2 linked regions of the Homo sapiens genome follow. Each later gene encodes a partner of the first gene's protein in a complex. Each region holds a gene or a part of one and is shown on either strand. Other genes may lie near its edges.

Region 1 (7,025 bases):
GAGGCTGTAAGAAGAAAAGAGGTTTCCAGTAAAGACACTAACCATGAGCAGAAATCCCAAAAGGGCATAAAACCAAGGTTGATCAAGCACACAACCCTGCAACAATCACTGGATCAAGAGACAAAGAAAATTCCCACCTTTCTCAAAGAAAACACATCATTCTTCCATATCCCAAATGATTAACAGGAGATTCAAAAGGAAATTAAGATTTTTTGTTGTTGTTGAGACAGGGTCTCACTGGAGACTGGAATGCAGTGGTGTGATAACAGTTCACTGCAGCCTTAATCTCCTGGAATCGAGTGATCTTCCCATCTTAGCCTCCAAGTAGCTGGGACTACAGGCACATGCCACCATGCCCAGCTATTTTTTTTTTTTAGTAGAGACAAAGTCTCATCATGCCCAGGTTGCTCTCGCTCTGGAGCTCAAGCAATCTTCCTGCCTCAGCCTCCCAAAGTGCTAGGATTACAAGTGTGAGCTGCCATGCCCAGAAATAAATTAAGACTGTTCTTAATTTTAGTCTAGTCATCTAATAGCCTCAAATTGGGAAAGCAGAACCAGGGCTGGGCAAGGATGAGCTAAACTTCTGTTCCTTCATAGGCAGTGGCCAAGGCTTTCTTTTTCCCTCTGAGAGCTACGGCTCTGACAATTGACCTGCATTTTCTTTTGTATAGACAAAATGGCACTAGTCAGCCCCGATAATTACTGAAACTGACTCTGGGTCAGGACAACAGGTAATTCTGGTTTCAAATCTTTCTAACTTTTACTCATTCAACAAATATTTTTGAGCACCTACTATGTGTCACACTCTGTTCTAGGCACTGGGTGAGGACACTAAGGTGAATAAAGAGAAGCAAAGTCCCTGGACTCATGGGGTCTGTCTTGCTCAATCAGGAAGCAGTAATACTCACCTGCCTTTTGGCCAACAAAGAGGAATCCTGGAGCATGTCCATGATGATAATAAAAAGTTCATCAACCCATTTCCTCATTTCCAGGCCACTAACCTGCAAAATGAAAAAGAGGGTGGCAGAAAGGGTTAGAAATTCTGGCATTAGAAAGTATTTTGGAGGCCGGGCACGGTGGCTCATGCCTGTAATCCCAGCACTTTGGGAGGCTGAGGAGGGCAGATCACCTGGCATCAGGAGCTCCAGACCAGCCTAGCCAACATGGTAAAACCCCATCTCTACTAAAAATACAAGAATTAGCCAGGTGTGGTGGCACACACCTGTAATCCCGGCTACTTGGGAGGGTGAGGCACGAGAATCACTTGAACCCAGGAGATGGAGGTTGCAGTGAGCCAAGATCACACCACTGCACTCCAGCCTGGACAAAGTGAAACTGTCTCAAAAACAAATAAATAAAATAAAAAATTTTTTTTAAAAAAGCCCTCTCTTCCTTTCTCCACCATCATGGTGTGTGCCTGACTCTGATTCTTGCCATTCTTCTCACAAGACTTTCAGAATTAAGCAATTCCTGGCCAAGAAACAAAAGTAAAATCGTCCCATTCCCCAGTGGATTCGGATGAAAACTGGTAATAAAACCAGGTACAACTCCAAAAAAAGACACTGGAGAAGAACCAAGCAGGGTCTATAAGGAATTGCACATGAGATGGCACACACATTTATGCTGTCTGAAGGTCACAATGATATTACCATATCAAGCTGAAAATGTCACCACTATCTGGAGAGTTGGACATGTTTTATTGAGAATATATTATTTCTCTCTGAATCTGTTATGAATGCATTGTTGGCTGGGTTCCGCAATAAATATGTGAGACCTTTCATTTAAAAAAAAAAATAGTATTTTGACTTCCTTAGAGGTTAGTTTCTTTTCCACCCTATCTCCGCTATGGAAAAAGTAGCTGCCCCTTTACCTGTGCCAATTCTCCTATTGTTGCCAGGACATTATTGATCACACCTGGGTTTGGATCAGGGTCTGGATCTTTCAGTTTCAAAATTAATGCCTAGAGAAAGAAGTTATGAGAAAATGAATGCAGATTAGACTCTACTAGAAACCTTTCTTTTATATAAGTAAAATTCACCCAAGAGACCATCTCAGTCATAAAGAAATTCCTTCTAGGCTTTATGAATCCAAGATTTCTCTGGAATGTAAATTCTCAAACTTTTCTCCATATGAAGTCTAAGTCTGACATGTGAGAGAGCTGGGAAGCACCATAATGTGAAAGTATTTCTCATGTCTCCTCTAAACCGAGTCTCAGTGATTGTTCATCCAGATTAACATACATTATAAAGGACTTCACGTGACTCTAATGTGTTGAGATTTGAAGGTTGTTTCAGATTTTCAAGCTCATTTTTTCCTCATTTTGGGCGAGCTATTTTATGCTACTATCTACCTACTTCTCCTTTCCAAACATCTGCGATGATGTGCCTGAAGCATTAACTCTTACCTCTTGTAAGGACAGCACTTTCCTGCAACTGATAAGATTCTTGGTATTCTTTAACTGAAAGTGCTTGATATGGCCCTTTGGTCTCCAAGCGTGAGAGCAAAGAAATCACCTACTTTGTTCAGTGTACTAGTGAACACTGAAACACTCCCATCTCCCCATATGAGCTGATGACAACGCACAGAGAAAGCACCAGCCTCTCGGTTTGTGTTACCTTCAGAATAGGCTCCATGTAGGGGCGGATGAGTCGGGGGGCATTGGAGACCAGGTGCCCCAGCATGCGGGCACTCTGCTCTTTGATTCTTCCAATCCCACTGTGCTCCAACTCTGTCAAAATCTGTAGGGAAGAAAGGCTCATATGTTCTCTATGGCAGAAGACATTCTAGAGAGAGACTGTGTCCAACAGAAAAAGTGGCAGGGAACTGGGGGAAAAACCCAGACCTCCACGACAGATGAAGTAGCTGCTAGATACTCAATGAGCAACAGACTTTTCTGCAACAGGCAGAACAGCCTTAGATACAGCTGTGACAGGAAGAAAAACTATTCGAAAACCTGCTCCCTTTCCTTTTATCACAGCACTCCAATGTCCCATGGCCCTCTCTAAAGCAGAGCTTTTAACCATGTAGCACAGCCAGAGAAGACTGAGAAAACCAACAGGGAGAGCTGTGAGTAGGGTTCTATAAAAATGAGGAAAGAAGGTAGGGCCCCTTGGGAGAAAAATCTTTGTCCAGACAGCAAATTACTGAAGACTACAAATAATGGCAAAGGAATCAAAGAACAGTTAGAACAGCTATGATGCCAAGAGAAGTGCTGATACTCTGTAGCTGTTTGGGGCATATCTAGATAAACCTCAATAGGTGGGGATCACACTGGCAGGATCCCCCGAAGCCTTACTGACTGGAGATAACACATTGGTTCTAGCTGACATCCTTAGGACACCAGCAAATCAGCATATCTTGCTCATGGTGACATAGACAGCATAATATAGACAGATTTCTGGATAAAGCTGCCAGAAGGAAATCGATGAGCAGTGACAAAAGCAGATGTCACAGAGCTCAGGTTAACTCAGCTACCCAGAGGAGTCTACAATTTAACATTACATTTTGTCTTAGGTTACTGACTTAATAACCCGATTTTTCTGGATTCCCCTGGCAGCCTGTTTTCCCCAGTCATAGCAGACCACAGGGAAAAGAAATGAAGGGGATACTGAGAATAGACCTGCAGCACCAAGAAGACATGGCTGACTGCAAGGAAATGTGCCTCACGGAGCAGAGCCCAACTATCTGCAGCAGTGCGGGGCCAATCCAAAGAACCCCAGGTTCACTTAGAGCCCGAGAGCCTCACTGCATCCTAATAACAATAACCAATGCCCACCCTGATGACCAAGACCGCAAGAAAGGCCAAAGTCGGCCAGGCACGGTGGCTCATGCCTGTAATCCCAGCACTTTAGGAGGCTGAGGCAGGTGGACTGCTCGAGCCCAAGAGGCAGAGGTTGCAGTGAGACGAGATCCCACCATTGCACTCTAACCTTGGTGACAGAGTGAGATTCTGTCTCAAAACAAAACAAAACACCAAAGCCTTTACCAAGGCATGAAAATGTACACCTCAATTTGGAAAAATCTATATCAAAGTTTAAAAACAAAAAAGAGTAATTTTAACATTTCAAGGGCTAAATTCAGTACATAAATTCATTCAAAGGAGCTTCACACTCTGCAATATTGAAAAAATGAAATGGCCTGATAGCTTAATATCAGCTTTAAGAAGATTAGAGCCAGCCGGGCGAGGTGGCTCACACCTGTAATCCCAGCACTTTGGGAGGCCGAAGCGGGCAGACCATGAGGTCAAGAGATTGAGACCAGCCTGGCCAACATGGAGAAACTCCATCTCTACTAAAAATACAAAAATTAGCTGGGCGTGGTGGCGGGCGCCTGTAGTCCCAGCTACTCAGGAGGCCAAGGCAGGAGAATCGCTTGAACCTGGGAGGTGGAGGTTGCAGTGAGCCAAGATCACACTACTGCACTCCAGCCTGGCGACAGAGCGAGACTGTGTCTCAAAAAAAAAAAAGAAAGAAGATTGCAGCCACGCCTGGCTTGTTGACTGCTATATTCCCAGTGCCCAGCAGTACCTGGAACATAGCATGTGGTCAAAAAGTCTGCTGACAGAATGAACATATTGATATTCTCATTAGGAGGTATTTCTTATTTTTTCCTTTTTTTTTTTTTTTTTGAGATAGGGTCTCACTCTGTCACCCAGGCTGGAGTGCAGTGGCACAATCACGGCTCACTGCATCCACAACTTACCAGGCTCAAGTGATCCTCCCACCTCAGCCTCCTGAGTAGCTAGGACTACAGGTATGCACCACTACACCCAGCTAACTTTCGTATATTTTGTAGAGACGTGGTTTGTCATGTTCCCCAGGCTGGTCTTGTCAAACTCTTGGGCTCCTGTGATCCGCCTGCCTTGGCCTCCCAATGTGCTGGGATAACAGACATGAGACACTGCACTCAGCCGTTTAGGAGATATTTCTACGCCAAATTAATTTAGCATGATTTGAGCTGGCAGGCTCAACAGTGATTTCACGTTTTTTTTTTTTTTTTTGAGACAGAGTCTCGCTCTGTCGCCAGGCTGGAGTGCAGTGGCGCGCTCTCGGCTCACTGCAACCTTCACCTCCTGGGTTCAAGCAATTCTCCCTGCACCAGCCTCCAGAGTAGCTGGTATTACAGACGCCTGCCAACATGCCTGGCTATTTTTTTTTTATTTTTAGTAGAGATGGGGTTTCACCATGTTGGCCAGGCTGGTCTTGAACTCCTGACCCCAGGTGATCTGGCCACCTCGGCCTCCCAAAGTGCTGGGATTACAGGCATGAGCCACCACGCCCGGCCTTCAACAATGATTTCTATTCCTTCCTATAACTGAGGAATGTTTTTAAGACTTAAAATGGCAGGCACTTCTAACGCAGGCCGGCAGTTAAATAAATCATTACGCTAAAAATAGAAGTGCCAACATAAGTACAACTTCCTAATTTGTTGACTGATGATATAATTTACAGCCACTTTATAACAAATTGTGAACAAACATTTCTCTAGAGTGAGTTACATATATTAATGATTTTCTATGTTTAAGTTCCTTATATGTTATAAAAAGTGTTTACTTCAAAACAAACCATGAAGGAGGATCAGGAAGCAAACAGTGAGCAATGGGGACAGGAAATGACTGGGTGAGCAACATAGAGACCCACAAGAGGCAGGTGGAAATAACTTCACCAGGCAGGACTGGTGTATTGGCAGGACTCCATGTATTGCTCACCAGGAGGCCACAGATCTTACTCAGTAGGTGAAGACAAAAACTGAGGAGCCATGTCTCCAGAGCAATTCTACCTTACGCTACAGACCAAGCAGCTGAGCTTGGCATTCTCATATTATTTAAGAACGAAAGCCAGGATCACAGACTGGAGCAATGACTATTAGAACAAATAGTGGAAACGGTCTCACACTGGTTATTTTTGTGAAGAACAACGGCCTCCGTGCTTGACCTGGCACCAGCAAGAAAAGCAGGAGAGCTGAAGGATAGGGAGGCGCTGGGAAGTCTGACACCATCTGCAGCAGATCAACCCAGCAAGCAAAGAGGGCCAAGAAATGGGATCACTGGTGACTTGCCAGGAAAAAGAAAGAGCTGCATGAGAGGACTCTGAACCACCTTAGAGTCATATTGACAAAGGGCTCATGAGGTGATGAGCACTGGAACTGCCATTATAAAGCCAGGGAAACATTTGGACCTTTGCAGACAAATGCGGCTTTTACCAGGTACCTCAATCTTTCTCCCCCATCCTTGTCCTCAACTCCGCTTCCTCAAGCAGTTCTCACAGCGAGAGTCCTGTCTTCCCTGCCTGTGGGTCTGGCCATCACCTCGGTTACCTGGATGAGCATCTTGCGCAGGAAAGGCATGACAAAGGCAGGGTTCATGCTACTGAGTCGGCCCACAGTGCAGATGGCCAGCTCCCGGATCTCAAACACCTGGTCATTCAGAGCCACAAACAAGGCCTGCAAGTTCTCCGCCTGGGCCAGGTGTGCATCAAAGCGCTCGTCCAGGGACGCCAAGACACAGTAGCGAATGTCAGGGTCTGCAAGAGCAATGGAGCCTTTGAACATTTCCTCATGATCCCATCACTCCAGCCCTTCCCAGCTTCTACCTCCACTGCCATCAGCGTAGTGGGAAGATTCCAGATGCTTTTTCTCATCTAACCTCTGTCATTCTTTTCTCTACTCACAAGAGTAAAAGACAAAAGAATTAAAGGTAGATTATCTTACACCAAAGGCTACAGTAGCCATGCCTAACACGCCTTGGCAGAGAAATAGCTGAATATCAGCTTTTTGAGCCGAAGAACTCTAGAGAGGCCATGTAATGAAACTGGCTACTCCCAATTGTCCTAAGCTCCTTAACTCCCCTAGATTCCTTCTGTCTGGCAAGCCTTACCAGGATCTGTTATCCCAACTACGAGCAGTTTGCTAAGCACATCTGCCACCACTTGCACTGCGGTCTGGCTAACCACATGAGCATGGCCACTGATGAGGTGGATGGAGGGTGTGAGCAGGCGGGAGCAGGTGCGGGCAGCCTCCATGCGGAT
Region 2 (7,045 bases), on another chromosome or scaffold:
AGTATAATTAAAAACAAACAAACAAACAGCAACAACAAAAAACCTCTGGTCTCCAGCACAGCCGACTCTGCGTGAATTACTCTTTCTCTATTGCAATTCCCCTGTCTTGATGAATCGGCTCTTTCTAGGCAGTGGGCAAGGTGAACCCCTTGGGCGATAAATAGCAATAAACTGCTTGGAGAAGTGCAGGAAAATAGCCCAGAGAAGGTGGCATTTCAGTTAGCCTTTAAAATCAGGCAGGATGGCCCGGCACAGTGGCTCATGCCTATAATCCTAGCACTTTGGGAGGCTGGTGGGAAGGTCACCTGAGGTCAGGAGTTCAAGACCAGCCTGACCAACATGGTGAGATCCCTGTCTCTACTAAAAATACAAAAAAATTAGCCAGGCCTGGTGGCACATGCCTGTAATCCCAGCCACCCAGAAGGCTGAGGCAGGAGAATTGCTGGAACCCGGGAGGCAGAAGCTGCAGTGAGCCAAGATCATGCCACTGCACTCCAGCCTGGCTGATAGAGGAGACTCTGTCTCAAAAAATAATTAATTAATTAATTAATTAAAATCAGGCAAGAATAATACCAATGCATATTAAAAGGCAACAATAATCATGACAGCTAACATATTAATCTTCATAGCTGACAGTATTCTTTCATGCATTTTATCAATTCAAGTTCATCTCCTTTTTATATTGCTGCTGACCTTTAGGAAGTGTTTATCACACCAGTGCTACTCCAAGTGTGGTTTGCTAACTGGGCACGATCTTGGCTCACTGCAGCCTCCGCCTCCCAGGTTCAAGCAATTCTCCCACCTCAGCCTCCCAAGTAGCTGGGATTACAGGCACCTGCCAACACACCCGGCTAATTTTTGTATTTTTAGTAGAGACAGGGTTTCGCCATGTTGGCCAGGCTGGTCTTCAACTCCTGGCCTCAAGTGATCCACCCACCTCACCCTCCAAAAGTTCTGGGATGATAGACGTGAGCCACTGCACCTGGCTTCATTTGTATTATTGTATTTCATCAAAGTATCAGGCTTCAATGGGTTGAAAGCATACACACACACACACAGGTGGATCTTCCCCGCCAAACCTTTGAGAAGCACTGGCCCCAAAGCACCAAAACAGACAGAAGGCATGAAAGAGGTAAGTGTGGAGAGCTAGAAGAGAAAAGTGTGGAGAGCTAGAAGAGAAAGCTCACACTTAATAGTTCCCACCTGTAATAAGTGCTTTCAGTAAATTTTATTTAATCCTCCCAATAACCCAATGAGATTGGTGTTATTATCTAAATTTTACAAAAGAGGGACAGCAAATTCAGAGACGATAAGGAGCTTGCCCAAACATGGCCAAGAATCAAACCAAGGTTTGTCAGAATTCTGTTTTTCTGAAATATTTATGCTGAATTAGTTGCCATATGAGTGCCCTTTTCTCCTTGATCAATATCTAAAAAATTACAGTTTATCTGGAACCAGTTGCTCCTGGGCTCACAGTCATGGACATGTCCTCAGGATGTGGCTCACCAATTTTTCCCTAAGTTAGGAAAAAGGATCTGTCTTCTTACCCAGTGGAGCATGGTGTGTGTCATATGTCAAAAGGTTAAAACAATAACAGCAAACCAGTTCCCATTTCCTGTTCAAATATACCTACCTATACACACACCGCCCCCTACACACACCTCTTATCAGGCAAGAAAAATAAATCATGCTCTCTCACTGTCACTGGAACAATAGCATCAGGTATTTTCCTAACTCGAATTTTCTTTTCTTTTCTTTATGTTAAGGTGCTTTTTTATCTTAAAGTTACAAATTTGTGTTACTGACATGGATCTTGGAAACTTTACATAATAGAAATTTTAATGTTATTTATTTTTTCTTTTTTTTAAGTGTCAGGGTCTTGCTCTGATACACACACTGGAGTGCGGTGGTGCAATCATAGCTCACTGTAACCTTGAATTCCTGGGCTCAAGTGATCCTTCCACCTCAGCCTCTCAAGTAGCTGAGACTACAGGTATGCACAACCATACCTGGGTAATTAATTTTGTTTTTTTTTTGTAGAGACAGGGTCTTGCTATGTTGCCCAGGCTGGCATTGAACTCTTGGCCTCAAGCAGTCCTCCCACCCTAACTTCCCAAAGAACTGGGATTACATTATTTCATTTAAGCCACGCAACATCCCTATGAAGTAGAAATTATTATTCCTGTTTTATCGATAGGAAAGGGAGGCCAAGAGAAATAACTAGCATAAGGTTGCAAAATTAGCAAACGACAGAATTGAGATAGAAATTGCATGTTTGACTGAGAAGCCCGTGCAAACTCTTGATATTCTATTTAGTAGTTATAAGATTAAAACATGAGCAACAGACACCTTTTAATCTCATTAACTCTGGGACTTCTGTTGAATGATTTATGTATTTTATGCAGAATAAGGCTCTTAGAATCACAGTCACCTAGAACTATGTCTGCCTTGGTCTACATGTCTATTGTGGCCTATTTAAAAAATTAAGAAACTTAAATAATTTCTTTTGGCAAAAGAGTCACCTAACATCTGTCTCATGCAGATTCAGAGCTGGTCTGCTCCCGGATGTTCAAGGGAGTTGGGCAACTATTCTCTTTCTGGAGTGGGGCTGAGTATGGCCAGGGTTTAAGGGCTACCTAACTTTCTAGGCAGATTACTTCATCTTTCTATACTTAAGCTTTCTCATTTGTAAGTTGAAAATAATACCAAACTCCAGGGTTTTGTGAGGATAAAGTGTTTGGCACAATGTAAAGCACAGAATAAATGCTCAACACACATGAATACTGCCATAAACATTACTTCGCCTTCCTGCAGACCAACTCCGACTCTGCATGAAACAGAAAATCAGAACATTTATTTGGTACTAATCAAATTTCTTTTCATAATCTTTTACGGATAGACAATACCATTGTATCCCCATTTTAAGAGGCAGTCTTTCAGTCTTTTCAAAGCATAACTTTGAAGCCAGAATTGCCTCGGTTAGATTTCTTCTTATTATTATTATGATGATTTGAGACGGAGTCTCGCTCTTGTTGCCCAGGCTGGAATGCAATGGCACTAACTCCGCTCACCCGAACTCGGCTTACAGCAACCTCCGCCTCCCGGGTTCGAGCGATTCTCCTGCCTCAGCCTCCGAAGTAGCTAGGATTACAGGCATGCACCACCACGCCCGGCTAATTTTGTATTTTTAGTAGAGACGGGGTTTCTTCATGTTGGTCAGGCTGGTCTGGAACTCCTGACCTCAGGTGATCTGCCCGCCTCGGCCTCCCAAAGTGCTGGGATTACAGGCATGAGCCACGGTGCCCGGCTCTTCTTATACTTATTATTTGCTTGCCTTAGACAAGTAACTTCACCTCTCCAAGCCTGCATTCTAATGCAAAACGAACACCAATACCTATTTTATGAATTATTGTAATAATTAAACGAGGTAATACCATACCTGAAGTATCTTTAATGCAGCAGATGTCAAAAGTGGTAGCCGCAATTATTTTTATTTTGTAAGGGAGGATTAAACACATTTAAATAGGACATCACAGGAGCGGAGCTGGATCCCAGGTCAGCCTGATTCCTAGGCCGGCGTTCCTTATTGATTACAACATAAGGCAAACAAGTCGTCTTTGGAGAGAGAGGTTGGGGAGAGAAGAATGTTTAATTTCTCCATGCCCTTCAATGACATGTATAACCTTCACTGTTGACCATTTGGCCAGATTGTTGAATTATGTTTTGCTCTCTGGCAACTTGGGGTGTGGAACGTACAATAAAAACGCCTTCACACTAATAACCTCCAGGCCTGTCCCCAGGATTCTACAGCATGAGCTTTGTGGGTAAAGAGAGCTCACCAAATTCAGCCTCCAGCAGCACACACAGCTCAGTAGCAGCGCCCCGCCCAGATGTTTATATTTTCCTCCATCGGCCCCGCCCCCCGACCATGAGGGGCTCTAGCCACGCCCCCAAGCTCAAGTTTCTGGGGCCGGACTAGCCCAGCGCGTCTGCCTACCCATAGGGATTCCCTCTCCAGCCAATCCAGTCAGAGCAGCGGAGCTGCCCCGAACAAAGATGGCGCGGGAAGCGTCTGTGAGGGCAGACTGATCCGAGCACCCAAACCCTCGGCGGACAGCGGAGCCAGTGGTAGCCGCACGGCCCTAAAACCATGGAGGAGGGCGGCAGCACTGGCAGTGCTGGCAGTGACAGCAGCACCAGCGGGAGTGGCGGGGCGCAGCAAAGGGAGCTGGAGCGCATGGCTGAGGTCTTGGTCACCGGGGAACAGCTACGGTAAGGCAAGAGACACAGCGGGTGAGCTCACGATGGCACTGCCAACGCGTGCCCGCTGCAGTCCTGCGCGCACGCGCTCCCTGGCTCGTGGCTTGCGACTCGCGTGGGGCGCCGGAACGGCTGCGGGCGCGTGGATGGTCCTCGGTGCGCCCGCGCTTAGCTGCTGCAGCCTCGGTCCCTGAGGACTCGCTCGCCAAGCGGGGCTGCCTGGCAGAAGCCGACGAGCGGGTGGTGCGCGCTGCGCCCTAGCCTGGCTGCTGCAGTCCTGTGCCGGGCAAAGTCCCTGCCACCCACCGCGCTGTCCGTCTTCCCGTGTACCTGGACGCCGCCAGGCCTCCCGGCTGACAGCCTGCGCCTCATCCGCGAAGAGAGCAAGAGGGGTCGCTGTGGGGTCCCGAGGCGACCCCAGCCCCTCTACTCCTTGATAAAAGGAGCAAGACCAACGATAGTCTTCACTAGGTTTTCCTTTTTGCTGACAAGTCTTCCTTCACTCCCCTGAGCCTCGGTGTTTTACATCTGTAAAACAGGGCTGATTCAAGGGCTTTTTGTGAGGTTAAACTGAGAGAGCATTTCTGAAACCCTGCACCTATCAGTTAATTGGCACATCGTCCTCAATCATTTGGGTCCGCAAGGGGGCGTGGAGGCACCTTGTCGGGCTGCCTTGAGGCTGTGCCAACTCCCCGGGCTCGCACGTTTTGGGCAGCAGGATCCATGGGGACCCTGGCTCCTGCAAGAATTAAGACTTGCGGCGTCTCACGGAACTTGGGAACAAGGACGACCCCCAGAATCCCCCTTGCCATTCCCATCCCTGTATGGTCCTTCCTCTAGGGCTGTTTGGGAATAGTACTTATGGTCTAACTGGTTCTGCAGCTGCCCTTCGTGTGGTTATAAATCAGTTTGCCAGGAAAAAGAAAACCCAGCTCTGCAGCGTTTGAGCCACAACTTGTACGCGGGCCCCTGTTACTTCTAGTTCTTAGCCTGAATTCCCCAGCTTGTTTTGGTTTCTAAATGTCTGTGTTTCAGGACCTGAAAGAGTGTCTTGCAAAGGTCTCTGAAGGAGACCAATATTGGAAGTCAGAATTAACTGATTTTTAATGTTACAAAAGGCAAATTGCACCTATCGATTCTTTGTTGATTTTTAAAAATACGTGGTCAGAATTAAAGGGAATAAAAACTTTTTTTCCTTCATCAAAAGTACTTTCTAATGAAACCTGTCACGCGGTGCCCGTGTGAAGAGACCACCGAACAAGTTTTGTGTGAGCAATAAAGCTTTTTAATCACCTGGGTGCAGGTGGACTGAGTCTAAAAACGGAGTCAGCAAAGGGAGATGGGGAAGGGGTTGTTTTATAGGAGTTGGGTAGATGATGGATAGTGGTGTAAGTTTGTGAGGTGCAGTCCAAGAAGGCGGGGGTGACTTCATAAAGCCCTGTTGTAAAGAGTAGAGTAAGGAAGAAGAGACCTGATATCCCTTGGAGAATAAATGTTGAAGGAGCAGGAGGGTGTCTTGCTGAGAAGATTCAAAGGAGAGGCTACAAAGTAGAAGGTCATCAATATATTGAATAAGGTGAGAAGCAGAGGGGTAGAAAGAAAGTAAATCATGAGAAAGGGCTTGGCTGAAGTAATGAGGGCTGTTCCTGAAGACTTGCGGCAGTACAGCCCAGGTAAGCTGCTGGGACTGATGGGTGTCAGGGTCAGTCCAGGTAAAAGCAAAGAGAGGCTGGGACGAGGGGTGCAGGGGAATAGTGAAAAAGGCATCTTTAAGATCAAGAATGGAATAGTGAGTTGTGGAGGAAGGTATTGAGGACAAAAGAGTGTACAGGTTTGGCACCACAGGGTGGATAGGCAAAACAATTTGGTTGATAAGGTGCAGAACCTGAACTAACCTGTAAGACTTGTCCAGTTTTGGGACAGGTAAAATGGGGGAATTGTAAGGAGAGTTTGTAGGCTTTAGAAGCCCAAGCTGTAGCAGGCGAGTGATAACAGGCTTCAGTCCCTTTAAAGCCTACTGTGGGAAAGAAAGTTTAATTTCTCTGCTCTTCATTACTGGGCCATCTTTTTAAAAGTCTTCTGTTGGATAGGGTTACTTATTTTTCATTTATTTTACAAATATTAAATTGCATGATGGCTCTTTTTGTCCAGCAAGTACTTTTTCCTTCAAGATGCAGTTTAAATGCCTCTTCCTTGCAGTCCCCAGAGCACTTGTTATTCCCCACTTTTCTAGCGCCTCTCTGCACTGCAGCAGTTTTGAGAGCCATCCTTGTCATGCAGGAATTAGACCTGGGTTTGAATGACTGCTCCACCATTATGTAGGCAAGTGTCAGCATTAAGTTGTTTCAAGGAAGACTTTAAGCTAGACTGAATCTTGGCTTTGCTACTTACTAGTGTGGGACCTTGGACAAGTGATTATGCCCGTAATCCTGGCCCTTTGGGAGACCAAGGCAGGCGGATCCCTTGAGGTCTGGAGTTCAAGACCAGCCTGACCAACATGGTGAAACCTCATCTCTACTAAAAATACAAGAATTAGCCGGGTGTGGTGGTGCATGCTTGTAATCCTAGCTACTTGGGAGGCTGAGGTGAGAGGATTGCTTGAACCTGGGAGGCAGAGGTTGCAGTGAGCCAAGACAGTGCCACTGCACTCCAGCCTGGGCAACAGAGTGAGCCTCCATCTCAAAAAAAAAAAAAGAAGAAGAAGGATGGGTAATAATGGAATTTACCTCATAGTGTTACTATGAGGATTAGATGAGTTGCGCTTAGGGTAGTTTCTGATAGATAT

Evidence for each region. Proteins that work in one complex are often made in the same cells at the same time.
Region 2: the proteins of MTOR (region 1) and DEPTOR are in contact, whole or in part, in a cryo-EM structure (PDB 7PEC), measured with the Homo sapiens proteins. Residues at the interface, in NP_001373429.1 of Homo sapiens: Met304, Gly305, Phe306, His1494, Cys1498, Trp1501, Gln1525, Asp1527, Ser1528, Glu1530, Glu1531, Cys1534, Met1535, Ile1536, Arg1538, Arg1547, Gln1554, Leu1556, Leu1559, Gln1562, Cys1563, Lys1566, Arg1683, Leu1685, Asp1686, His1687, Lys1710, Ile1711, Phe1714, Gln1715; in NP_073620.2 of Homo sapiens: Arg54, His56, Leu57, Lys58, Thr59, Tyr60, Pro61, Val101, Arg116, Lys119, Asp121, Gly122, Thr123, Phe124, Lys131, Ala132, Arg135, Arg138, Lys142, Glu177, Gly178, Glu179, Glu185, Cys304, Asn305, Lys307, Gly335, Asp336, Ala337, Val338.

Annotation. Positions count from the first base shown.
Region 1 is NC_000001.11:11,231,528-11,238,552, forward strand, and holds part of MTOR (serine/threonine-protein kinase mTOR), read right to left. Parts: coding exon 6,875-7,025; intron 6,522-6,874; coding exon 6,316-6,521; intron 6,233-6,315; exon of another isoform or gene 6,209-6,232; intron 2,739-6,208; coding exon 2,616-2,738; intron 1,961-2,615; coding exon 1,871-1,960; intron 1,787-1,870; exon of another isoform or gene 1,383-1,786; intron 1,002-1,382; coding exon 909-1,001; intron 1-908. UniProt on the Homo sapiens protein: Serine/threonine protein kinase which is a central regulator of cellular metabolism, growth and survival in response to hormones, growth factors, nutrients, energy and stress signals.
Region 2 is NC_000008.11:119,869,697-119,876,741, forward strand, and holds the start of DEPTOR (DEP domain-containing mTOR-interacting protein), read left to right. Parts: upstream 1-4,025; 5' UTR 4,026-4,150; coding exon 4,151-4,272; intron 4,273-7,045. UniProt on the Homo sapiens protein: Negative regulator of the mTORC1 and mTORC2 complexes: inhibits the protein kinase activity of MTOR, thereby inactivating both complexes. DEPTOR inhibits mTORC1 and mTORC2 to induce autophagy.